2 separate regions of the Homo sapiens genome follow, and region 1 is linked to region 2. Evidence: fine-mapped expression QTL. Tissue or cell type: whole blood. Region 2 holds a variant in brackets; the other region holds the start of a gene. All regions are shown on one strand. Distances are from middle to middle.

What was found. PIP is the estimated chance that this variant, and not a neighbour inherited with it, causes the effect.
Region 1: it holds the start of DNAH10OS, and the variant in region 2 is fine-mapped to the expression of DNAH10OS in whole blood (TOPMed, PIP 0.96).

What each region holds. Positions count from the first base shown.
Region 1 is chr12:123,931,254-123,939,253 of GRCh38, reverse strand. DNAH10OS (dynein axonemal heavy chain 10 opposite strand) reads left to right here and starts at 4,270. Exons shown (of 2, transcript NR_187476.1): 1 at 4,270-5,189. DNAH10 (dynein axonemal heavy chain 10) reads right to left here. Exons shown (of 79, transcript NM_001372106.1): 74 at 7,782-7,913; 75 at 7,407-7,618; 76 at 7,146-7,313; 77 at 5,743-5,923; 78 at 4,488-4,633; 79 at 3,540-3,919. The coding sequence ends at 3,773. It overlaps CCDC92 (coiled-coil domain containing 92), which reads left to right. Exons shown (of 5, transcript NM_025140.3): 5 at 1,424-3,628. The coding sequence ends at 2,196. RefSeq lists enhancers at 204-704, 705-1,205.
Region 2 is chr12:124,012,616-124,020,875 of GRCh38, reverse strand. The region is part of intron 2 of ZNF664-RFLNA (ZNF664-RFLNA readthrough); the gene reads right to left. It overlaps ZNF664 (zinc finger protein 664), which reads right to left. Exons shown (of 5, transcript NM_152437.3): 5 at 5,449-8,260. The coding sequence ends at 7,946. Among named protein-coding and RNA genes, the nearest start is that of ZNF664-RFLNA, 44 kb to the right of the region's middle. The variant G/A (reference allele first, on the strand shown) is at 3,128.

The DNA of each region.
Region 1 (8,000 bases), 81 kb after region 2:
GGGAAAGACGTCCAGTGGCGTCCAGTGCCTAGGCAGGCCCTGGGTGGTGGAGTTGGTACAGGGAAACTGGGCGTGCAGGTCTGGAGTTAGGGCAAGGACAGAGGGTACAATAGAGACAGAACAAGAGGTGGTGGCTTGGGGAGAGTGATGGAAGCTTTGATTTATGTGGGAGCAGATAACATTCAGGACAGATTGAGGAACTGGAAGGCATCTGGCAGTTTGGGTTTTATTAGGCAGTGAGGAACCATTTTGAACAGAGGACAAGAATATTTAGGGGGTGACCAAGCTTCCTAAATACAGGATGGGCTGAAACGAAGACCAGAGAGGAGGTGGGACCAAGGCCGGCTGGAGGAGCAGGGAGGGGGCAGCACTGAGCAGCCAGCAGAAAGGCACAGTCAGGGAGGGGAGGCCAGGGATGGCGACTGCATCCAGTTTCCCTGGGAGAGTCAAGATGTGGGAAGCAGAGCAGCTATCTGGACTTGAGGGTGTGTCTGACGGACACTCACTTGGAGAAGTGGTGCTCAGGAGACACTGAATCGGGAGCTGATGCTCAAGTTGAATTCCAGACCAGCAAGGAAGAGTCTAGAAAGAACTTCCCAGGGGCCAGGCAAGGAGGATGGCCAGCCAGCCAGCGTTAGGAGGAGTAGGATGGTGACCCAGGGTTTAGAGCCAAGGGTGCTATGTGAGGTGACCAGGGACTGCAGGTCACCAGAAGAGCAGGAGAAGGAGGTGGCTGGTGTTTGCTGAAGGACTGGGTGAGGGCAGGCACCCAGGGACAGCAAAAGGAGGCAGAGGCCCGAAGTGTTAGGGCAGGGGCAGGGAGGGACCAAGGGTAAGAGCCACAGAGGCGAGACAGCTCACTCTCTGAGCAGGAAGTGGGAAAGAGTCTGTGTGTGTGTGTGTGTGAGAGAGACGGGGGTAGGGGGGTGAGAGAGGCGGCCAGCGGCAGAGCAAAGGTGACAGCCCCACACCTCTTCTCCTCTAAACATCAGAATTTTAATTCAATAGACATGGATAATTCTTTTTACATTTGAGTTTCAAAACAGTACTTTGAATGTAGCAGGCATTCCATAAATGCCATCTGAGCAGACAGAGGGATTTGCGGCCAGTTGAATCCTAAGTGTTTGCTGAGGTCTGATACTCTGCAATTGCCTGTTTTAAGTTCAGCATCTTTAAGGTTCAGAGACATTCTTTTATGCAGTAGGCCAGAGAACTAAGAGCCGGAAAGGGCCTCTGAGATGCCCCGATCTCCCCACCTCGGGGAGGGGAGGGGTCTTTCCAGAGCCCCCACAGCCCTGCCTTCTGCATGGCCCCCACAGCCTAGACAGGGCCCCCACCAGACAGGTCCGCCTGCCCCATAGGCCTCACCACTCGGCCTCAGTCTAATGAGTTCTTCACCTGCTTCCTCGGCTTATTCTTGTAGGAGACGGGACTTCTAAAAGCAGTGAATTAAAGAAAAGATGTGAAGAGCTGGAAGCCCAACTGAAAGTGAAAGAGAACGAAAATGCTGAGTTGTTGAAAGAACTGGAGCAGAAAAACGCGATGATCACAGTGCTGGAGAACACCATCAAGGAGCGAGAGAAGAAGTACCTGGAGGAGCTGAAGGCCAAGAGTCACAAGCTGACCCTGCTGTCTAGCGAGCTGGAGCAGCGGGCCAGCACCATCGCCTACCTGACCTCCCAGCTGCACGCCGCCAAGAAGAAGCTCATGAGCTCCAGCGGGACCTCAGATGCCAGCCCGTCAGGGAGCCCCGTGCTGGCCAGCTACAAGCCAGCGCCCCCCAAAGACAAGCTACCCGAAACGCCTCGCCGCCGCATGAAAAAGAGCCTCTCAGCCCCCTTGCACCCGGAATTTGAAGAGGTCTACAGATTCGGGGCAGAGAGCAGGAAACTCCTTTTGCGGGAACCAGTGGATGCTATGCCCGACCCCACCCCATTTCTGCTGGCTAGGGAGTCCGCCGAGGTCCACCTCATCAAAGAGAGGCCCCTCGTCATCCCCCCCATCGCCTCCGACCGAAGCGGCGAGCAGCACAGCCCGGCCCGCGAAAAGCCGCACAAGGCCCACGTCGGGGTGGCACATCGGATCCACCACGCCACCCCGCCGCAGGCCCAGCCCGAGGTGAAGACCCTGGCGGTCGACCAGGTGAACGGAGGCAAGGTGGTGAGGAAGCACTCAGGGACGGACAGAACTGTGTGAAGCCCGCCGTGCCCCACCCCGCGCTGTCCATGCACTGTGAGCACCACTGGGAAATCTCAGCCACACCTTTTCTGTTTAATCCCATGCATGCCAAACACTTTTCACACCTACCGACCCATTCTCCTTCTGCTTCTCTTGCCCTCTTCTTCACACCAAAATATGATCGTGTCCCTGCCGCAGAATATGTATTTCCTAATTGCTGTGGCCAAACGCCTGTGTGCCGAATCGCTTGCTTCTGATCCCGCTCCGTGTAACCTAAGTGCGCTGCAGGCAAAGCCCAGGCCACGGCTGCGTCACTACTGATGTTCACGATGCCACACAGTCACACACCTAATTCATTCTCAAGTCGGAGCAACACATACCAACCTTGACCTTATCCTCAAGCTCCAGGGCAGCCTGGCCGAGCAGCCCCTGCTCCCTCCTGGAGACCCTTGTCACCTCCCGAGCTCCTCCTGGAGACCCCTGTCACCTCCTGACCAACCTTTCCCAGGGCGGCACCGATCACCGAGCAGCCGTGCGTGTATCTCAAGGAACTAAATAAGATGACGCTACTCCTCATAGCACCACAACCTGAATGTGTGTTCATATTTTTTTGTTAGTTTTATCCAAAATGTTTAAGATCCCAACAAACTTTATTTTCTAAACCTGCCTTCCTTCTGTTTTGTGTCTTTTATTAAACAAACACCTGAAGGAGGGCTAGGAGACTGCAGGAGGGAGAGCAATCACAGGTCCCAGAAGCGACTCCGGCCTCCTCCCGGCCCAGAGCTAGTCCTTAGAATGTGCTGCGCTCCTGAGCTTCTGTGGGAAGCTGCTTTTGCCTCTGATGGCCCCTGCCCACTGTGCTGCCCGTGCTAGCCCCTCTCCTCCCTCATGGAGTGAAGCCACCCCTCACCTCCAGGTGGCCAGCCAGGGCTCCAGGCCAGCCTCATGGTGCACAGAGGGAAGGGGTGCCCAGTGACCACTGGTCCTGGAGGTTCTGTGTCCTTACCTGACCCCACACAGACCCAGGCAGGCTGGGGGTAGAAGCTCATGCAGGAACTAAACACTAAGCTCAACAACTTCACAGTCGCCGTAGCAGGTCAGAGCCAAAGAAGCTAGGGCCAGAGAGTTCTGGAAGGGGGAGAAGTGGCTCCAGGTGACTGGTCACTTCTGCTCTGTGCCCGACATCATCAGCCCTTCTTGCCAAAAAGGAGCATCTGCTGAAACAGACCTGGATCATCGAAAACACACCTTTGGAAATTACATTAGGATTCTCACTTGTGCCAATGCTATGTATGCCAGGCACTTTTGCCTAATCAAGTGTTTTCTCTGAGAAGGAAAAGAAAACTCCACACATCTTAAAATACTCTCCAATATTTACTTTTTGATTATATAAATTCCTTTTAAAAAGTAGTATTAAAAACAAAACCATTCAGGTTAATTTGTATGGAAAGAGATTTAAGTGGCTGATTTCAAATGAAAAATCAGTGTCAGTCCCCCTCCTGCCTCTTGAGAGGCCCCAAGAAATGACAGCAGACCCGATCACTCTGACAACCCCAGGCTCCGAATTCATTAAGCAGTTTTCTTCACCCAAAGGTTAATCAGAATTCAGGGTGAGGCATACTCCTTGCAGCACCCAGTGAGAAATGTGCCTCGTGGTAAAGAGATCAGCTTCAAAAACCAAGCCGACTCCCATGGCGTTCCTTCTCATGGAGGTGGTGTAGACGGGGGTCCGGAAAGTATTCTGCAAGGGAAAGGCAGGTGAGATGCCCCCACGGAGAGAGGGTGCAGAGGGATAAAGGCAGAGGTGCAGTGTAAGTCTTGACAGGCAGGGGCCCCTGTGCAAGACTGCACCTGAGAACACGCACAAGGCTGGGGCTGCTCAGGGCCACCCTCCGCCAGCTTCACGGGGACCTGGCTTCACACTGACACCCTGGTTAAAAGTGGGTCCTGGCCCAGGCAGAGCAGAAGACATCTGCTGTCCACACCAGCGGGAACCACTTTATGACTCAGGCAATGTCTGCAGCATTTTGCAAGAAGGGAGGGAGTCTCCCCTTGGTTAGTCTAGACCACAGGATCACAGCTTGAGCCTGACACCTCTGGAAGGACCGGCATCCACACACACATACAGCCGCGCCTTTTCCAGGAAGCAGCTATCCGTAGCTTTTATCACGGCTCCAAGACTCTCCCCAGCCCATAAAGCTTAGGCACCCCTGTTTTAAAAAGTAGGACTGTTGGAAACCACCTCAGCCATAACTACAGTCAGAAGAGGAAGGGCCCTGGTGTCAGAGAGGAGGGGCTGGGACCTTCACCTGCAGCTTGAGGCGATGGGCTTCAATGGGGATGATCTTCAGGATCGGCAGGTCCACAACCAGCACCTTGGGTTTGCTCTTGATAAGACATCCTTTTTCTATATCCCAGTCAGCACCTTCCAGGTACAGTCCTGAGACAAAGCATCCTAGGGACACAAGGCAGAGACTGGATACAACTGGAGCATGCACAGCCTGCCACGGAGTGGCTCTATCAGGCGCACACACAGCGACACACAGGCCACTGGCTGGCCTCCTCCCCAGCGCATTGGGGACAGCCCAGGCCCTTCTCCAGCATTTCTGTCCTGCCCACCTTCCCTCTGTGGAGGAGCAGCCCAGACAGGAGACCCTGTGGCCCTGCCCCATGGCCCAGAGAAATGGGTGTGGGGCGGTGGCCTCTCCCCCAGGAATCCTCATTCCTGGGGCATCAAGGCCCACGGACTTAGACCACCCTGGGCCCCCAGGCTAGAAAGATGCATGGTCCCAGAGTCAGAATGGGCACCATGGCAACCCCAGCTACCCTGTGAGCCGAAGTGGCTGGGGAGCAGGAAGTCGAAGCCTCACAGAGAAAGTGGTCTCCGGGGAGGAGGACCCAGCAGATGTGCAAAGAGAGGAACACACTCCTGTGGCCCCAGAGAGAGTGGTGGCCCGGACACCTGCCACCTCCCCTGCCACTGAGACCTGGAGAGTCCCTGCATCTTTACCGTAAGTCCCCAGTCCTTAAGCCATCTCAAAAGAGCTTTTGTTCCTTGCAGTTAAAAGAACTCTAAGACAACATGGACCCGGGGAAACAGCAGTTTCCAGCTCTCATTTGCACAGTCAGTAACCAATGTCTAAGGGACCTGAAGTTCTGGCATAATCAAAGAGTTCCAACCAAGTTAGTCCATGCTGCTCTGTGGCTCCCATGCCCCTGGCCCCGTCAGGGGTTACAAGAAAGCCACCTGATGGTTTTTGCAAGAGCTAATTCTGACCTAGGAGCCCACTTGCCATGAGCTAGCAGAGTGAACATGGTTCAGGTCTCCCCTGCCATAGACCCCAGGTCTCAACGGAGAAAGTGGAAGAGAAACTTCCGTATCCACCCTCAGAGGTGTTAAGACATGGGCAGTGCAGAGACACAGGAAATATTTGCAGCAGGCTGGCTTTCAAACATGGCCTGGCCCATTTAGGCCCACGCTATGCCTGTCCCTTTGAGTTGGAGGTGGTTCAGGGAGAGAAATCCTAAGTGAGAGGCTGTGGATCCCTAACGAGCTGACGGTACCTTGTCCCGCCCGCTCATTCACTTCATCTGCATCCTGGAACTTGGTCACTTGTGTGAACAAGGTGGAGCGGTCCAGTGGCCAGCCGTTCTTCCGGCAGGTGGCCTGCACCAGCGCCGTGAGGTAGGACTCAGGGATGTGCAGCCCCGAGAGCCACATCACGCTGGGCTCGCTCTCGGTCACCTGGAGAGAAGAGAGGACAAGTGCTGGGAGCCTGGGGCTGCCATCCAATGCCAGGTCAAAGCTGGCCTGGAAGTTTAGTTTATGATAAAAGACATATTTCACCTAAGTGGCAAAAGATGGCGTTGGCACAACTGGCCGCCTGTCTGAGAAAAACAATCTGGACTGCCACATTCCAGGTAGATCAAAGATTTAGATATAAAAATAAATAAAACCACAAAAGTACTGGGCCACATCTCCAATGAATGCTTTCATATCGTGGAGTAGGAAATACAAAGCCCAGGATAAAAAAGAAAAGCCTTGTAGGTTTGACTACGGAAAAATGTAAAGCTTTTCTGTGGAAAAAATACCGTAAGCAAAGTCAAGACTTATGACAAGCTTGGAGAAATACCTGCAACACTGGCAGACCAAGGGCTAATTTCTTTGATTTGCAAAGAGCTCTTAAACATCAATGAGAAAGATGGAGACCTCACTAAAAATGAAATCCAGATACAAAAGGACAATTCACAGAAAAACAAACACAAAATGTCTGTAAAGCATGCAAAATACGCTCAGACTCACCATAATTAAAGACATGCAAAACAATGAGATATTATTTTCACCTATCAGGGAGACAGTGATCCAAAATGTTAAGAACGCAGCATTGCAGCGGAGTGAGGAAAGAAGCACTCTCATAGACTGTGGTTTCAGCCTTTCTAAGAACCATCCAACAAGAGCTATCAAAATTTAAAATGCACAAGCTCTTTGATCCAACTCTTCCACTGTCAGAATTTACCCATGGAATATACCCCTATGCATATTCATATACATGTGCACCAGAATGTTATTTGTATTAGCAAAAAAAAAAAAAAAATGGTAACCACCGAAATGTAGGCAGTTACCATATTTTTAGGATACAGAAGGAGGAGAAAGGATATGAAACATTTGTACAATGGCATACTCTAAAAAAGAACGAGCTAGCTGTGTACTAATATGGAACAAGTGCCAAGATATACACTTAGATAAAATAATCGGGTATGTAAGAGTATGCTTCAAAGTCTTCAAAAGAAAAGGAAAAACAAAAGATACAGATAGGCTTGTAAGAATCTCAGACCATTTCCAGAGCACCCAATAAACTTTAACAGAGGTTACTGCTGGGCAATGGAAAGAGGGGATTGGGAGGTGGTTTGAGGAGTCTAGGCTGACACCTGAATCGGCAGAGAGGAGGCGGTGACGTGCCACTTACCCACAACATGTACTGGCTGAACCGCCGCAGGAAGTAGACCATCCAGTTTCCAAGGGACTTTAAGGTGTCAGGAGCAAGCCTTCTCCAGATATTAGGGATATGCCCGATAAAAAGAGACCTGGCCACATCATCTAACTCATTGCTCATTCCAACTTCTCCAGCCAAGGCCTATTTAGAATCAAGAGCAATCGGGCAGGACTCTATCAGAACCCCAGGTGCCACGTATCTAGGCAGTAATCTGCACATGAGAGACAGGCTCACCCTTTGAAGTTCAGCCAGAGACTTCGTCATCCGGACCACAAGCTTGTTGAAGCGTTCCAGTTCCTGCAGGAGCACCACCGAAGTGGGGGAGAGTCCTGTTCCGAGGCGCTTCCTCACCTGGTCCAAGTCAAAGACTTTGGGCATCTTGTTTTCTATTTCTTTGGCCACTTGGCCAATATAATCATCGCGGCTGATACCACTGCTGGATTCCCCTAAAACCAGGACACTTTTCAGAGAAAGCAAGGCATCCACGTGCAGAACCGGAGCCTCCTGAGCCTTCCAGTTCTGGGAAAGGCATCAGCAACGTGGGAGGGCTACAAGAAGCAATCGTAAAACCCCAATCAAACTAATGAAGTCCTCCTGAGTAGAGTTTACCTGTCTGAGGCTGCAGCTCCAGCAGGTGAGCCCACATGTCTCGAGCCGCCTGCGTGTAATAGCCAATCTCAGCGTTGGGGTGGAGACCAAACACTTCTGGCGTGTTGGCAAGCGGGAGGGCCTCGATGGCTTCTGCAATCACAGAGAACAACGGAGGTGGCACTGTCCAGCCACCTGTGCTTTCTCAGGGCCCACAGCCTCAAAGTCTCCAAGACATGC
Region 2 (8,260 bases):
GCCAGAGAAAGAATATTTTAGGCTCTGGGGGCCATTCAATCTCTGTTGCAACTCTGCAATTCTGCTGTTGCAGCATCAAAGCAGCCACAGACAAGCCAAGAATGGATCAACATGGTTTTGTTCCCATAAAACTGTATTTATGGACACAATGTGAATTTCATTAAGTTTTCGTATTCAGAAAATATCAATGTGTTAAAAACCATTTAGAAACATACACATTTTTAGCTTGGAGGCTATACAAAAACAGGAGATGAGCTAGATTTGGCCCAGGGCCATAGTTTGCTGACCCGGAACTAGATCACTGAAAATAAAGCCTATTGGGATTAATTCATGGGATTCTAGCAACTAAAAAAAAAAGTTTCAGAAAAAAGATAATAAGCTAAATTAAGGAAGGGAAGAGGATATGATTAGTGATAATAAAAGAAAGTAATAAATATGACAGGAAAATACCCCAGCAGAAGTGATCACCAAAGCCAATGTCTGGTTCTTCGGGGGAGTGGAAGTAGAGAGGGTGGCAAGTCCAATAAAGAAAAAAATGGAAAATATAAACATACGATGGGAGATGTAAGATTTTATCAAAATGCCAATGAGATTTAAGAATTTAGAGTTATACACATCTCTAAAATATATTTGAAGGTCCCCAAAAAAGGGAGGTTTTTTCCTAGAAAACTATAAATTATCAAAAATAAGGGGGAAAGATCTAAATTGACCTATTAGTTTTGAAAAGAGTAAAAACACTGTCAAAGCTTCTAAGCTCCACCCTCAAGGATCTGAGCCATTTTGGATGAGTTCTATCACTTTCAAGGATCAGATGGTTGATTTAAACAATATGAGATGTTACCTTAATTTATGCTCCAGGCAAGTGAAGTGGGACACAGATTTTATTACTTTTTCTTGTATGAATACTGCCCATACAGTCCAGGGGCACAGTTATTAACCTGTGCTATTTAATTTATTCCAGAATAAGGAGGATAGAAAGCTTTTAAATCCCTGATTAAATCAATTCATAACTAAAGACTCTCTCTTAAGGTTACACACATGCAAATTTTCAAAAATCCACCAAAGGTGGAAGGATGTAATACTTTATGACCATAAAAGATGTTATCCTTATATTTCAAAATGACTCAGTACATTAACAAATGAAAGGAACAGGAGCATATGATGATCTTGGTGAAGGCCCAAAAGTCATTTGGTAAAATTTAAAAATCCTGCAGTATTTTTTCCAGCTTGTTTGACTGCTTAGTTTCATATTCCTTATCTCATAAATGAATTGAAGGCTATGAAAGTTTTTCATTTCGGCCCCATCCACAAGACGTGCCCCACAGTGCCATCTCTGCCACTCATCTCTACTACACTTGATTTCCTCTTTATTTGTAACTTGGGATGAAATGGACAGGACTTTTGGCTCTTTCTCAGTGACTTCAATTTTTTATTACATTATAGTCAGAGAATATGACCTGTGAGATTTCTACATTTTGGAATCTGGTGAGATTTCCTTTCTGGCACAAAGCATGGCTAATTTCTATGACCATTCCAAGAGGATCTGCTGCACAAAGTTCACACACAGTGGACACATCAAGTTTGGTAACAGTGTTAGTTAAATAGCCAGATCCTTCTTTGTCTAGTTGATTTTCAAATTCTGATGGGTGAGGGTTAACATATCTTGCTGTGACTGGGAATTGCTTAATTTCTTACCATGTTCTATCTTTCAAAGCTATGTTGTGAGCTAATGAAAGTATATAACTATCTTCTTGACAAATTATTCCTTTCATAAACGGACTGACAATACTACCACCAGTTGCTTTCTTTTAGCATTTCCTGATCTTTTTCAACCCCTTCACTGTCAGCCTTTTGGGTCACCCCTTTATTTTAGGTGGTCTCCCATAACCATCATATACACGTTTGTGACGTCATTTACAAATCAACTTGAAAATGTCCCTAAGTAGCTGAATTTAACCAGTTCACATTTACTATGATTAACAATATGCTTCAACTTACTCCTGCCATCTTATCCTTTCCTGTTTTTTTAATTTCTTCTCCTAATGTTTACTGGATCAAGTGAGGCAAGCAAAACACAGAGGATTCAGTTCTTTCCAGACACTGCCTGTTTCAACTATAACAATGTGGCAACAACAGCTCCAGGAAGTAGGGCTTGCTGCTCTACCAGACTCTCCCGTCATCCTCCACAGACTGTAGAAACAGGACTTACCCTTGAGACTAAGTCCCTGTGGGTCTTGACCTTATCTCAGAAAGGGGAGCGGGGGGCACACAAGGATGGAAGAGTATCAGGGGTAAAAAAAAAAAAAAAAAAAAAAGACATTTTGGGGACAGACAGGATGAAGACTAAAGAGGACTGACTTAAACAGTCAGAGATCCCAGGCAAGTGAGGTAGGACATAAAAATTAGACATGAGAGAACATGGCATTGAGCAATATGAATAGGTCTATTTGAGAACCTAAATACAACCCACACCAGTACTGGGGCCCTCACCCATTTTACAGCAAGAACTGCCTCCTCTGTAACCAAGACAGATTCAGTTGAGATCTAGTGTTTTCCATTCAGGTAGCCAATTCCGTCCACGTCCAGCCAGTCCCCTCTGAATACTCAATTGTCCTCACCTATATTCTTTTAATACACTGTTCGCAGAACTGTTGTCTTAAGCGTATGACATCGAAACTGCCACACAGCCTACCTCCTGGGCCCAGCATAACAACACATGCACATGTATCCTTCCATTTTATGCCAACGTCCTTTTCCCTCTTTCCTCACAACACAGCGTTGTGTTTTTTCCTCCGTTTATTATACCCATCATTTCCTATCCATTCCACTAACTGGAACTCTTAGGCACCCCTTTTGCCTCCCAAGATCCCCAAACAACGAGTAACCATATGCCAGCCAGTGTTCTTTATCTCTTAGAGTCACAAACATAAGGAAAGCCCCCTTTCCTAGAAAAATGCATAGACCTACAGGTACACAAAATTCTGCACATAACTTAAAAAGGTTCTAGACCTCCCCAAAAGCCGTCTGCAGGTCTTAGGTTTTAAAATTCTGTAAATACAACACCCCCACCATAATTCATGATGCAGAGAAGACCTGGATCAGGGCCAGCAAAGAATTAAGAGGGGGA[G/A]GGAAAGTCGGTCTCTCAGCGAAGCCATATTTAGACACAGTATTTAGGAAGGTACAGAGTCTATAAAATGCATACATCCGCCTAAAAATACACAAAATCTGTATGTGCTACTTTACTCTAGAAATGCAGTTTATTTACATATGCCTAAATCTGAGCAATAAAATTGCTTTGGTATAAAGTGTCATTTTCCACCGATATTTATGACAAGTTCTTACTGGCATAAACACACACACAGCCTTGGGATCTCTGGATTTGTTCATGTGTTTTGTAATATGTTAAAATGAGAATGATAAAAAAAATTCTTAAGTTTCAACTTACTTATGATTATAAAGTTATTCTACTTCATGTACATTGAGAGTGGAAATAAAGATATCCCAGGCCTCCCTGCCCCTTAGGGGTTTGGGTAAACTTGACTCAAAACTCCATTAATTCCATGGCCTGTAGCAGCTTTTAGCTACCCTGAAGATTTCTGCATATTCTGCATATTCCTTGGAGCTTGTTCTCAGGGGCACCCTCTTCTGGCTCCTATATTTATGTGTGGTACTTACGTGTTGCCCCATTTCACCCTGGATACAGCACTCAGCCCTTCCACCAGTTTCCATAAGAAATCCACCATGCCAAACACCCCTAACTTTAGGGAAAGACTTTGTGGTCACGAAGTTTTCCTACACAAGAGCTCAGAACTTCAGACCATCCTACTCCACTGGTTCCCTGGTCCTCTCTCCCACTCCAAGTCTACCCTTTGTTTTCTTACCTCCAACTACCCCAGGAGATTCAAGTTCTCTCTCTTACCATGTGGAGCAATTCAGCCCTCTCCAGGTCCTACCCCAATTTTAGATGTCCAAACCCACCACAGAGCTCAGCAAAACAAAAAGGAATCCAAATAACATGACCTTTCTTCCTTAATAGGCAACTGGGAATAGGAATTCGTTATAGCACTAAATGCTAGGCACTTTACGTTTATTTACTTCTCCCAACATTTCCATGAATTAGATATTTTCAAAACCATTTTAAAGATGAGAAACTTGAGGTTTAGAAAAATTAAGAAAATGAATATGGTTAGAGGAAGTGCTCTATCATCTTCATTTTTCCTCTCTTCCTCTCTAATCCATAGATCTTAACTCAGCTTTGCTATTTATATATGGCTCTTGCCCTGTAGTAGTATCAACCTTTCTCATCTTTTCCTAGATTTTACCACTGAGTATATTTTCCATCTGCTTCTGATATTTGCTTTCCATTCACCTAGTTTTTCAAATTTCTGAGAATATCAGTACATTACAAAGACTGAGAAATAATTCAAAAATTTTAAGAACAGAGCCAAGAGCTAGAAGGTCCCTTGGAAGGAATCATGTCCATGCTCACACAACACAAAGTAATCCCTCTTCAATTTCTGAGATGGCCTGACGAGCTGTGCCCACATTCTCACGCAGTAGACTATCTCAATGTTGGACTCTGATGCAAAGAGTTCTTCCTATCTGCAAGAGGCAATCTGCCGTTTATTCATGCTTCCAAGTTAGAAACCATGCAGTCATTCTGGACTTATCTTGGCTCACACTCTAAATCCTAGCAGATTCACCAAGAGTGAATCCCATCACAGATGACCTACCCTTGCCCCCACCCCCCACCCCCATCAGAAGGGCTAGTTTGGGTTGCTCCCATCCCAATGGTGGAATTGCAATGCAGACTTGTCTCTCAAAGCTGGTAGACGCCACAGCCAGTCAGACTGTTGACTGCGGCACAGAACGTGGGCCCCCTCTGCTTCAGCTGACAGCACTTCACGCCTTCCCAGGCATGGGCTGCAGTCAGCAGGGGCCAGGGCAGGGCTTGGAGGAACTGCCAAGGGGCACCAGGAAGATCACAGAAAGCACCAAAATGGATCACCCAAGGAAAAGGAATTAGCTGCCAACATTTTAAGATTAAACTGTGTGTGAAAATCGAGGTTGGTGTTTTCTTAGAAGAGCTGTGGGCCTGTATTCGCCGTGAACACAGAGCCACAGCCGAGCTGAGGCAGTCCTCTCAGTGGACTGTGCTCTCTCCAGATGGATTATTCCTGACTTGAGTCATTTATTACCTGTGTGGCTGTGACCTCAGACCAAGGTGTCCTCACACCTTAGTGTGCCCGAGAAAGGCCCATTCGAGGCTTGTTGTCCAGATGTGAGTATCAACAGCACCCCCTCCCTTCACTCTCAAGTGCTCAGTTTGGACAATAAATTACATGGTCACCCTGGGCTTAATGTGCAAGCCAATTCTCCACCACACACCCATACCCATACTCCCACACACGACCACTGAATTCACACAACTACATGTCAAGCACAGAACCCTGTTATAAAGCGATTTTATTAAATTGATTTGGACATACTGTAGGTCAAATAATATTTTCTGAAGATAACAATTATGGACTTTAAAGCTCGACATAAAATTAGTAGCTTCAAAAGGGTTAGTCATATTCCCCAGCAACAGCATGATAAAATAATTCAACTATGTAGAAATATAGAACTCTAGGACTAGCTGGAAACTCGGAAATCATTTAGCCTAATGTTCTCATTTTGAGAGAAAACTAGACTCAAAGATTAAGCGATTTGCCCAAGCTCACATACCTAATAGTAATAAAGCTAGAAATCAAACCAATTTTTCCTAAAACTAAAATTCTATCAATGATATTTCAACTGGCTATCAACTAAAAGTCTAGGCTTTTCTCTAATGCTCCACGCTATTGTGACATGAAAGAGTGATAAGACACTACAGTAAATCGTACTTGTGGAATTCAGGCCTGGAAGGGGCTTTGGCAAATAACTAAGCCAGCCCTCTCTTTGTAAAAAGGAGGAAAAGTATCTGAAGTGACTTACCAAAGGCTTGTTAGCAGAGATGTCTGGATTAAAATCCAGATATTGACAAATTCACCCCCAAATCCCATCTCTAGTTTCATGGCCCACCCACTAAATCATGTGCTCCTTTTAAATCTCCTTTATGCGCTGAGGTTTTAGTTATACAAAAACCCCTTCCAGTCAAACAGAAAAAATTAATTCAAATATGGAAAGAAAAATCAAACTTTCAGTATTTTCGTGACTATCTTGAGTAGTTCATTTTCCAACCTCTTAGACAGCTGACAGACACCACTAACCTGATCACCTATTTCAGAGCTTCAAAGATCCTTAATTTCCCCAAAGACTTCCTGAGCAAAAGGACTACATGTGGGAAATCAATGAAAACAGGAATGAGAAGAGAAAGTTAAAAATTGGTTGCTTTTGTTCCTGTCATTGGGGACTTTTGGTCTTCTAAACATTCCTTGAGTTCCTCCACATGAGTTTTTAATATCAATCTAGCAAAAATTAAAACAAACAAAAAAAGGCCTCTGAAAGTCAGGATACTGACCACCTCGGCATCTCTCCCCTTCCCCACTGCTTGCGAATGCCAGTGCTGGCCTGTTCCTTAAACGCACCAGCTCATCCCCCAGAGCAGCCTGTGTGCTCTGCCAGCGACTGCTACTTCTCCTCCGGCCTCAGCTCAACATCCCACCGCGGAAAGGCCTCCCTGACCACTAGCTAATGTCACCCCACCCCCACCCCACCCCACCACTAAAATCATCACCCTAGTTTATTTTCTTCATAGCACTTAATCACTATCTCAAACTACATTATTTATTTGTTTACTTATCATCTGTCTCCTCCACCAGAAGTAAACTCCACAAGAGTAGGGACCTTGTCTGTCTCATCAGTGGTATTCCCAGCACCTAGCACAGTGCCTGGCATATAGGAGGTGTTCAATACATATTTGTTGAATGAAGAAAAGAATGATGGATTAATAAAGACGTTCATGCCTAACAAAGAACTGATACACAGTAATCAATGAAGGGGTATCAAGAACTCCTATGCATTATTGCCCAAGATTACAGAAATAGAGATTGAAACATTAGTGACTCCTCCTACCATCCACTTCTCATAAGGTCTCCCTAGCTAGGAAGGAGCTCCATCTGTTACCAAAGGAGCCCAGAGGGCAATTCTGGATGAAGAAAAGCTCTCACTTTGCTTGCTTCTTCCTCCCTGCTATTTACATTCAGCTATTTCCAAAAAAATTCAAGTGAAAAATATGTGATGCAGCCACTACAAAATAAGTCTAACAGAGACAGTGATGAGCAGAATCCACACAAATAAAAAAGGTTCAAGGACATATATGTCTGCCAATGACTTTTCTGATAGGCTAAGTGAATGGGAATTATGAGTCACCTAAAATCTAAAATGAAAGTTAATGCCATCTAGGAAGGGATGGATATTTATGGGGATTTTGAGGACATATATTCAGAAATAATAGGATATATGGAAAGATATGTAGGGGCTAAATCAAGTGTTAACCTCAGAAATACCAGAACGTGATCTTAGTGGGAGCTGTCTGTTTTCCAATGCATTGCCAGTATGCTCGAATAAAGAGGAAGGAAGGGCATGAGCTCCTCAAGGGGGAGTATCTGGGATAGCTTTTAAGCAAAGTATAGATAGAAGGTGACTCAGGAGGCCGGGCAATGATTGTGGCTTTTTGTGTAGTCTTTCAACTATGGAGGCATCGTGCTGGAATCCCAGGAAGCGACGTCTGTGACTGGGACCTGAGAGCCATCCTGCGTGGATGCTCAGAGGTCCACATTCAAAGTCAACCTGTGGAACACACTTGGCATGAACCAACAAATCAATCTCACATATGCCTCCTCAGAAACAATGTTCTGCTAGGGATTGCGTAAATATTTCTTGGGTCAATGTAGGTATATACAGGGTTTCCTTCCTAGTGGCACTTATGGGTTTTAAGATTTTAAACTCTTAGCAAAACGTTTTATATAACTGATATTTTGAGATGGTTTCTCTCCTTTGTGTGGACTCTCTGGTGGATGCAGAGGCTCGTACTCTGACTGAAGGCCTTTCCGCACTCATCACATTTGAAAGGTTTCTCTCCTGTGTGGACTCTCTGGTGGATGCACAGGCTCGAACTCTGACTGAAGGCCTTCCCACATCCACAACATCTATAGGGTTTCTCTCCAGTGTGGACTCTCTGGTGGATGCAGAGGCTCGAACTCTGACTGAACGCCTTCCCACACTCATAACATTTATAGGGTTTCTCTCCTGTGTGGACTCTTTGATGCATGCAGAG